Regions from separate parts of the Homo sapiens genome. Here region 1 is linked to region 2. The links come from fine-mapping of genetic effects on plasma protein levels. A gene starts in region 2. The other region holds a variant in brackets. All regions are shown on one strand. Distances are between the middles of the regions.

The links. PIP is the chance, under the fine-mapping model, that this variant and not a neighbour inherited with it causes the effect. The UK Biobank Pharma Proteomics Project read protein levels with antibody pairs (Olink). The fine-mapping took linkage between variants from a reference panel, not from the people measured, so its PIPs are less certain.
Region 1: its variant is fine-mapped to the plasma level of the GIMAP8 protein (UK Biobank, PIP above 0.99). The variant lies in the coding sequence of GIMAP8. If it changes the protein, the assay may bind it differently, which can mimic a change of level.

Annotation. Positions count from the first base shown.
Region 1 is chr7:150,464,931-150,470,309 of GRCh38, reverse strand. It overlaps GIMAP8 (GTPase, IMAP family member 8), which reads right to left. Exons shown (of 5, transcript NM_175571.4): 2 at 2,976-3,639. The coding sequence starts at 3,611. Among named protein-coding and RNA genes, the nearest start is that of GIMAP8, 17 kb to the right of the region's middle. The variant C/T (reference allele first, on the strand shown) is at 3,287.
Region 2 is chr7:150,447,483-150,452,861 of GRCh38, reverse strand. GIMAP8 (GTPase, IMAP family member 8) reads right to left here and starts at 2,232. Exons shown (of 5, transcript NM_175571.4): 1 at 1,687-2,232. LINC00996 (long intergenic non-protein coding RNA 996) reads right to left here. Exons shown (of 4, transcript NR_034033.1): 4 at 4,722-5,379.

The DNA of each region.
Region 1 (5,379 bases), 17 kb before region 2:
CTAGACTTCATTTTAACCTTATCTTTGTTAAATCTTCATGCCAGCCAAGGAAATCTTCCCTCTGCTTTCTTGCCTGGCTTTGCCCAATATCATTGACACCCTCAACCATCCCTCTCCCTGCATCCTCTCCATTTAGCTGTCATTATCAGATTTCTTTAACCTTACATAGCCCAGTTCAAATTATTTAGTGTTCTCTAAATTCAAAAGATTGTTATGAGGTAAATGTCCATAATATAAAAATTAATGATCTTTGCATTCCCACTCCACCAGAAAAGTAACAGTTGTTAACTGGTATATATACTTCTATCTTTTTCTATGTTCATACAAATACATACAAGCATACATGAACATATGGAGACTTATTATTTGTTCTACAATCTGCTTAATAATGCATTCTGTACATCTGTAGAAGTCAATATAGACAGAACTACATCATTCTTTAAGTAGATAGAATTTATTCCATAGTACGGACATGCGTAACTGATGCAACCATCTTTTCATTGATCAATCTTCGGTTTATTTCTGGTTTTACTGTTTCAAATGATGCTGTGCTAACTATTCTTGTACATATATCTTTAGGTATACCTTTTTTTTTTTATTTCCAGGGCATAGAGTTCTAAAAGTATGGCTCTAACTCAGTCTCTGGGCTGTTAAAGTTCTTAATGATTCCTTAATTTATTTAATCCTCAGGCATTTTCATCATCATCATAATAACAGCATTACTGAACACCTACCAAGTTTCAAGCATTTGTTAACGACTTTGTAAGCATTTCATTTAATTCTCACAGCAATTCCTGACATACATGTGATTATTATCTCTGCTTTACAGAAGACAAAACTGAGATGCTATAGTCAACAAAACAGATATGATTTCTTCTGCCCTCATGGAGTGGGTAGGTAGACAACCAGTGAAATCACTTGATGTGGTGGTGACATTGCCATGAGGAAAGGAAGCTGTGGGGCTCATTCCAAGGCCTGAGAGCCAGGATGGTCAGGGAGGACTCCCTGAGGAAGTGACTTTTAGCTGATGCAGATGGAGAAATAAAAGCAAACCTGGTACAGGGTGGGATGGGGGAGAGCAAGTGTCAGTGCAGAGAGAATCACAGGCTTGAGGCTCAGGAGTGGATGTGAGTGTAACTCAGGGGCAAACAGGAAGGCCAGCAGGACCAAGGCATAGACAGCGGAGCACAGGGCAAGGAGTCAAGCCAAATTAAGAGTTCTGAACTTTACCTTATGATCAGCAGGAAGTCACTGGAGCATGTAAAACCAGAGGGTTTCATTGTAGGAAACTTACTACACACCCATTCTTCTCTTTATTAACATCCCTGTTCCATGCAGCCCTCAAGGAAGAGACAGATTGTCACAGAGGAGGGAGCACTCAGGCTAGGAGATAAGAGAGCAAGTGTCTTCAGCCCTCTTGAGCCTCAGTTTCCTCATGTGTAGAGCATCTGTCCATAGGGTTGTCACGAGGACTTAATTAGTTTATGTCTTTGTCTGGAATTTAGTGGGCATTCAGTAAATGATTTCTCTCTTATTTCCATGCTGCTTGGGCTTATTACTCTTCCCTCTGAGCAGTCTCTCTCTGACCAGAAAGTAACAGTTGTTAACTGGTATATATCCTTCTAACTTTTTCTATGTTCATACAAATACATACAAGCATACATGAACATATGGAGACTTATTAAGTTATATGTTCTACAATCTGCTTAATAATGCATTCTGTACATCTGTAGGAGTCAATATAGATAGAACTACATCATTCTTTAAGTAGATAGAATTTATTCCATAGTACGGACATGCGTAACTGATGTTACGCATCAGGCTCAGTGTGTGCCTGCTGTACACCCTCTGGGGCTTCCCCTTGCCAAATCCTCTGTGCTAGCATCCCCCTCACACTCAGCCAGGAGTGCTTTGTTTCTTATGCATCAGCCACTCCAGTTAAAGTGTAAGCACCTCTAAGGCAAAAGACTGCATTTTTGTATCTTCCTTAGTTACAAATACATTTTCCTTTCACATCAAAAGCTTAAATAAAATCTCACCCTGGCTGTAATGTGTGAGATGGGTTGTGGGATACAGCCCAAGAATACATGAGGAGAAAATCATTACGTTAAAATAGGTTAGGCAAGAAACGATGTAGGCTTGGACCAGGTGGTGGGAGTGGGATGGAGAGAAGCAGGTGGATTCTGGGTATATTGATCCCGCAAGACCTGATGATTTCTTGGCTCTCCAAGGGGAGCTACCAGGGTAGCAGAGCTGACACTGGGGTGTGGGTACAAAGAGCATGGTGAACAGCACAGCCCTTTTCTGAAGCATGAAGGAGAAGTCTTATAGATTTAAAAGAGAAAATCAAAAATTTGGACATATTAAGTGTGAGAAAGTATAAGAGAGACAAGTGGAGACCCCAAGCAGCAATTGTGTAAAGGAGGCAGAACTCAGAGGACAGATTTGGACTAGAGTTACTACTCATTTGAAAACCGTTAGTAGTAGATGAAGCTCAATGCCATAAAAGTGTGGGATCATCTGAGAAGAGAGTACAAAGAATTGAGGAAGGCCAGAACCAAGCCCTGAGGATGTTCATTTTTAGACGTCAGAGATTAGAGAAGGACTCAGCGATCTTTGGAATAGCCAGAAAAAGAGGGAAAAATAAAACAAATGAACAAGGAGAGGGCAATTATATTGAAGTCAGGGGAAGAGAGAGTCAAACAAATCATTGTGTGTTGAAGAATATGAGGGACCAAGTAAGATAAAGGCTTAAATTTGTCCATTAATTTGCTAATAAAGCCTAAAGTCCTTAGGCTGATAATTAAAGTACCCTAAAATCTGATACCTCTTATTCCTGCAAATTATATATAAATATCTTATTAAACAAAACCCATGTTCCATCACACAATGCAATATTTCATTTATTTATACCCACTTTCATCCCACTAGTTCAGCAACATAGAGATCTTTCAAGATATTAACAAAATTCTTACTTGAAACCTGCTGCCTTCAGTTTTGAAGTTCACATGATAGGGTCCTCCGTTCGTATTCACCAAAGACTCAACCTTGCGAAGGAGCTCCAACACCTGGGTGATCTGCTCATCCTTACTATTGGTCTTGTTGTTGAAAATGCAGTATCGGCCCTCATAGTCTTGAACCAACTGCTTGAGAGGTTTGTTTTTTTCAATGAAATCTTGCAGCAAGTCATCCCCCAAATCATCCTTCCGAGTGAAGACAATAATGATGTGCCTCCTGGCTTCAGCTCCAAACACTTGTTGGATGCCCTTGGCTGTTTCCTCATCCT[C/T]CCTTGTGAAATGGCCGATGGCAATTACCAAGAGCAGAGCATGGAGGCTGGGAGCAGAGAGCTCCAAGCAGTGTTGGATGTTGCGTTGCTTGTCTTCAGCACAAGCTATTGAGGAGAAAAGGTCAGGGGTGTCAATTACCACAACCTTCCTTTCTCTCAGGACCCAACTCTCTCTCTGGCACATTTTGATCACTGTCTGATCACTGAACTTGGACTTGAACACATGTTTGCCCAGAATGGCATTTCCTGTGGCACTTTTTCCCGAGCGGCATTTTCCCAGGAGGAGGAGCCGCAGTTCGGACATCTGGCAGCTCTGCTCTGACATGCTTTCCTGACACAGGCTCCCGCTTGTTCTGTTGGGACAGAAAACAACACATTAATGTTCAACTCCCACACAGAGTGGACAGGAAAACAGCAAGAAAAGACATTCTCTTTTTGACTCAAATTGCCGCCAATGAATTTGAGCTACTGAAGTTCTAGACCCAGACTAGATTAGAACAAGAAACACTTTCCCAGGATCTTCCTGTTCCCTCATCTCTGAGACAAACCTAGAGATCTCTTTTAGTTCCTTAAATTTTTTTTTTTTTTACCATTAGGAACCACAAGAAGTCAGATATGTTAGAAACCATACTAAATAAGCATGTTTCAAAGTTGAAGGAAATCTCATAATTAATAGTAATGGTCAGATGTTTAAAAAATACAGATCTCTGGGACCCAACCTACACCTATTAAATCAGAATCTCAAAGGAAAGATCCTAGAAATCTGTATTCATCAAATGTCACAGTAATTCTAATGAGTAGCCAAGTTTGGGAAGCATTGCCCTATAAAATGCAATGAAATGTCTAGAGCATACAAGCAAATATAATATATGGTATACATGATACTCTGAAAATAATATCACAGAAGACAAACTAGAAAACTTCATTTGTGGGACTCGTGATGCACCCAGTGCCAGGTGAAGTTAACAGAGAAGCATGATGTGGTGGGTATGACCATGGTCTTGGACTCTGACCTGGTTCACCTTCTGCTCTGCACGCATTAGCTGAGATCTGTAGAGGCCACTTAACCATTCTGAGTCTCAGTGTCCTAATCCATAAGATAGAAGCGGTATTACCTACTTCAAGGATATTTTTATAAAACTCAAATGAGATGACAAATGAGAAAGTACCTTGCAAGTTTCCACATATTACCTAAATGCAAAGTGGTACGATTTCAGTATATAGATAGTGCTGCTTGGATTTAATATTCTCCCTGCAAAGGCTTCCACCTGCCAGGCAAGTCAAACCCAAAACTCTTGAGCTAATGTGCCAAGCTCTTTGCAATCTGTTTCCAGCCCACAGAGTCAGCTCTACTTGTAGCCACTCTCCTCAACACACTGTATGCTCCAGCCAAGTGAACTACTCATCTGTATTTATTTATTCAGGCCCCACCTTGTTTGACATATGTTTTGAGCTGATTTGCTGTACCTGTTCAGTCATCCTGCCTTGTACAATTTCTTCTGGATTGCCCAAGAGACCCTGACCTGAAATCAAGTGAGGCCTGGAAATTCATGGCAAAACTGTCGCTGCGAGGAAAAAAACTCCCCTCTACCATAATCACAGGTTTTCCCTTTAGGGTACATCAGCAAGTAGCTGTGATTCCCACACAGGGTTACACCAGGGATCCTGTGTTCCTCTCTTTAAAAACTTAGTTTCCAAGACTGCAAAGCTGGCCATGATGCCCTCACCTGGGAAGGTTTACCTATGCAGATCTACAAGAGAGTGGCTCTCCCTATGAAAGCTTCGTACAGCACCCTCTTGGATGGCCACCCCTCCATGGTCCATGGTGAAGTCAGAAAGTTATTCATGTTATTTCACACCCTTTCTAGTGTCTCTGCCCCTTGATGGGTTCCCTTCCTGTTCTCACCAAGCCTGCTCCAGCATCCTTTTTGTCACTTGTATGAAAAGACTGAACAACAACAAATAAAAGGCATAGATGCAGCAAGCAGATAAGAATGTGACACACATGAGGACAATGTTGTGGGAGTCCAGGGAGGAGTCAGTCACTGGGACAGATTGGTACCACTCCATCAAAACTGCTCCAGCAGAGGGCA
Region 2 (5,379 bases):
AACCCCAACACTTTCAGAGGCCAAGGCAGGTAGATCCCTCGAGATCAGGAGTTTGAGACCAGCCTGGTCAACATGATGAAATCCCCGTCTTTATTAAAAGTACAAAAATTAGCCAGGCATGGTGGTGGGTGCCTGTAGTTCCACTCGCATGTATATATATATATATATATATATATATATATATATCTCACACACACACACACACACATATACACACATATATATACATATATACACATATATACATATATACATACATATATACATATATATACATATATACATACACACACACATATATATGCAAGTGAAGTGAGATGTCTCTGTAAATTAATTTAAGAAAAAAAGACACTAGTGAGAAAACAGCAAGCTGAAGGAAGCAGAGGCCTCCCACAGGTCTGAAGAAGAAAGAAATTTCTTTCCCAATTAAGCGACACAGCCTTGCATGGTTCCCCAGCAGAGTATGACCAAACCAATGAGTCTTGGCTGGACTCCTGCCTGCAGCTCCACATGATGTCAGGACCTACACACACACACCCACATACACACACGCACATGCACACTCCTACCACACATACAGCTTCCCAGCCAGTAGCACTTCACCCCAACATGTAGAAAGTGCACTTAAGGACAAAAAGGTACCCAAACTCACCCTCACTCACGCTCTGCCAGCCCACATTTCCCTCTGCTCAATTTCCCAGGCCACTCTGGAGACCCCAGCAGAGCAACTGAGAGAAAAAGAGAGCGTTCTTCCTATAATTCACTGAAGACTGTAAAGGCAGCCTCTGCCTCCTTCTCAGGAAACAGCCCAAGGCAAACGTGGACTCAGGCATCTGAGCACAGCATCCAGCCATGCGGGGATTCATCCCACATCTAATCGCAGTTCCCACTTACAGAGCAGGGTGGTTGGAGATGCCTCCAGAGCCCAGCGTGGGGAAGACCTTAGACCCAGCCCAGCAGGGCAACCATCAAGAGGAAGGGAAGAGGTTAACTGCTGAGGACCAGGTTGGCTGAAATGTAGGTGAAATCAGAAATATTGCTTTTGGTAAGGTCTTGACCCCTCCAATCCCTCCAATGCCCAGTTCACAGAATCCTAACTGTGCAAGGGGCAGGAAAGATCAGAAAAGCAGACGTGGAAAAATCAGCATCCCCCACCCCCTGCTTTGCGGGAGGAGCTCCGCTGGCTTCCTCCTGGGGGCTGCTCTGCGGCACCATCTAGCTTCATGGGGCATCTGACCGGCTGCTTCCGCCTGCTTCTTCCTCCCTTCTGCCAGTCTCAGCCCTCCTCCTCTTCAGGGCTCACACCCACTCCCCGACACGCCTTCTTTTAGGACAGCCACTCTCATAGATGTCTGGGAATATGCCTCTGTCCCCATCCTGCCGAATCTACTCCCCAGCAGGCTGGGGAGACACGCTTTGGACCAGGAGGAAAGCTTCCCAGGGCCCCTGCCATTCAACTCTGCCATTCAACCCTGCCATTCAACCCAGCCTCCTCTCCCATGGCTGAGCAGGCTGCCTTCCCGGTGCCAAGCCCATCCTCCCCCACAGCCATGCACCAGTGCACACACATCTACACACGAGTGCACATGTCACACATGCACTGCGGTCGTGTCCCATGGGGTCCCACGGCGTCCCACAGTCTCCGAGGCTCCGCAATCCACCTGGCTCTATCCCTCCATCTCTCACCTGGGTGGAAGCAGCTGCTGGTCCCCCAGGGCACAGGATGTGAGGAAGGTGAGGAGGGTGAGGGGAGAATGGCCGGAGAGCGACCCTCTTCCCAGGCCCTGGTCTTCCTGGCAGGAGGGTTTCGGGTGTTTCTGCAAAGGAAGAGATTTCTAGAAATAGCCTTCACATCCACAGAGGCATAAATGCAGTCGGAGAGGAAGTTCCCTGTGCAGGCCACAGGCTCAGAACCTCGAGAGCCGTCGGGGCTCAGGGAGGAGCCAGCATCGGGGACACACGCGCCTTCCCTGGGTGCTGAGCGCCTCGTGGGGTCACAACACAGCAGAAACTGAGGAGCCCGGCCCGTCCCGCAGCTGCAGACTGAGAGGAGGGAGGAGAAATGACAGCAGAGGCTTGGCCAGGGGCTGGGGCGCCGGGGCCGGTGCCAGGCTGAGCTTCAGAAGGGCTGCAAGAACAGGGGCTTGGATAGGGCAGGAAAAGGACGTCAAGCCAGTTCCTGTTCCTGAGAGGACAGAGATTGTGGCGCCGCTACAAGCTCTGAGCAAAGCCAGCTCCGGGCCTCTGTGTGCCCTTAAGTGGCCTTTAGGACTTCCTCTCACAAGTCCTTCCTCGCTTCCCTTCCCTTCCCTAAAACCCACAACCCGGGGAACTCCAAGCCTGACAGACCAACGCTGCTTCTCAGGGAATGAATGCTTTTCCCCAGCTTGCAAAACGTGAAATGCTAGACTTCGATGCTTTCAAATATTTCACAAAATGAAATCCCTTTTGTGAAAGAACATAGTGTCCAAACTACCTGGTCTCTACTTCATAAGGAAGTCAAACACGGAGGAAGACTTCTTAAAAAATGTTTACTAGGGTAAAAATGATGTAACATTAATAGTACCATCCTAACCATTTCTAAGTGTATAGCCCACAGTAGAAAGTACATTCACATGGTTGTGTGCCAGATCTGCAGGACTTTTCATCCTGCAGCACCCAAACTCTCCCCATTACACCCCAACTCACCTCCCCGAACCCCAGCCCGGGTAACCACCGTTCTACTTTCCGTTTCTATGATTTTTTTTTTTTTTTTGAGACAGAGTCTTGCTCTGTCGCCCAGGCTGGAGTGCAATGGTGTGATCTCGGCTCACTGCAACCTCCACCTCCCGAGTTCAAGCAATTCTCCTGCCCCAGCCTCCCGAGTAGCTGGGATTACAGGTTCCCGCCACCACACACGGCTAATATTTGTATTTTTAGTAGAAACGGGGTTTCACCATGTTGGCCAGGCTGGTCTTGAACTCCTGACCTCAAGTGATCCACCTGCCTCAGCCTCCCAAAGCGCTGGGATTACAGGTGTGAGCCACCACACCCGGCCTGTTTCTATGATTTTTGGCAACGTCAGATACTCATGTGAGTGGAGTCCCACAGTGTCTGCCCTCCTGAGACTGAGCAGAATGCCCTAGAGGTTCATCCAAGTGAGTGCGGGACCCTCTGCGCTCTGCACAGCAGGGCCCTCTTCACAGGATGCAGAGGCTAGGGCCTCGAGGGACTGGAGCTCAAGTTAGTTTTCCAAATGTCTGAGGTGGTGCTAAGCTTTCCAAAGGGACCCCGCAGAAGGAGGAGCAGTGGGGGTGGCTGAAGTAGAGGGGCATGCTTCAGATATGAAGTCTCTACAGTAGTCAAAACCACAGGCTTTGGGGAGCTGCTGTCAGCCTATCACATCCCGAGGGATCCACCCTCCCCCTGGACTGGTCTTCATGCGCCAGCCTTGAGGACTGCTCTACCTTGTTATGAACCTGAGGGAAACCCTGGTTATGCTGGGATGGCTCAAGAAGAGCTTTGGGGACACACAGGACACATCTTGATGGGGAAAGCTGACAAAGCCCTTCCCATGTCCCACTCTACCTGTCTCCTCATTGAAAGAGGATCTATTTTGGAAGAACCCCACCCTTCCTTTACAGTAGGTCAACGCACATAAAACCAACTCATTATAATGAAAAGACAAAAACCCGAAGCCAGGTACTGCAGTTCATCCCCGCTGGGGTACTAACAGAGGCAGAGGCTCAGCAAGAAACTGTTTCCCCAAAATAGAGAAGAAAAGGCTCACTCATTCTTAAATGAAATATTAAGCATCCAGGGATTGCTCTAAGTAAAACTGAAGCTGCAAATAACTCCTCAAAGATTCAGCAAGTCGATTATTTGCTGAGTTGACCATTTTGCAAAATGATCTTTCAGCAAATCAGCTCCTAGAGAATTGATTTCCGTGCAGAAGGCAGGCTGCCGGGTTCTGGTTTGGCACCGATCTGAGGCAGGATGGGGGCTCCCTGCCCCCTAGTGGCTTTGTGGCTAATGACAAGTGCAGCAAAATGCTCCCCAGCGGGCCGAGAGCCCTGACTCAGCAGGCAGGTGAAACACTGGGGAGAAGTTCTAGACTTCCAGAAATCGAATAAGCCAGGAAGACACATGTTATGCAAGCAAGGAGAAATCTACCAGGACCAAGCACCGTATTAGACACAGAGGGCACAAAGATTAGCAAGGCAAATACCTGACTCAAAGGGGCCCTAACTCAGTCTGAGGATGGGGAAGAGACTACGCTGTGGTCACGAAACGAGGTAATGTGCTGTGATAGAGATGCGTCCAGGCTGCCACGCAAGTGAGGAGGAGACGATGTAAACCCCGCAAGATGGAAAAACAACCAATTGGGGAAATAAACTTATAAACAAATCCGTAAACCCGCCATTTCCTGTGGCAGGTACTGACGGAGTGGTAGAGACGGAGTTTCACTATGTCCTGCCATGGAGAAGATTGTAAGGCACAGTGAAGGGAAGGCCGCGCGGGAAAGGTAATGCCTAAGTCTTGAAGGGCTGTAACATTTGCCTGTCAGATGACGGAGGGAGGACGCCTCAGGCAGACGGAGAATGGCAAACGCCACCGGCATCGGGGCCCTAAGACAGCCCAGCAGGTGCGAGAAAACGCAGTCAGGCTGGAGACAGAAGGACCGGTCAGAGGCTGCTGCAGCACCCAAGCTAGAAATGAGGAGAACTAACGCAGAGACAGCAGCAAGGGGAACAGATTTATTACAAATAGAAACAATAAGGCCGGGCCTGGTGGCTCATGCCTGTAATCCCAGCACTTCCTGGGAGGCCGAGGCCGGCGGCTCAACTGAGGTCAGGAATTCGAGACCACCCTGACCAACATGGTCAAACCCCGTCTCTACTAAAAATACAAAAAAATTAGCTGGGTGTGGTGGCACGTGCCTATAATCCCAGCTACTCAGGAGGCTGAGGCATGAGAATTGCTTGAACCCGGGAGGCGGAGGCTGCAGTGAGCCAAGATAGCGCCACTGCACTCCAGCCGGGGCAACACGAGTGAGACTGTCGCGGAAAAGAAAAGAAACAATAAAAGAATTTCTTAAAAAGATGAATTCACAGTTGTTAACACGATTGACCCAGTTGCCACATCAAAGGGAGTGCTATTCACTGCAGACATCTTTGTTATTTTGGAAAACATTATTATACGTTATTTCATTTCAAAGATGGAAAATGTGTGTGTTTACTACAGCTTTGGTAGATGGTAGTAAAGTGTCTTGTGACTAAATTTGTATATTTTGACAAGTTTTTGATGGAATTAAGTATCTTGTTCAAATGGAGTCCATGTCTGTTATAGTAATTCAGAAATAATATACTTATTTTAAAACGTTTAGCTTCTCCTGTAATT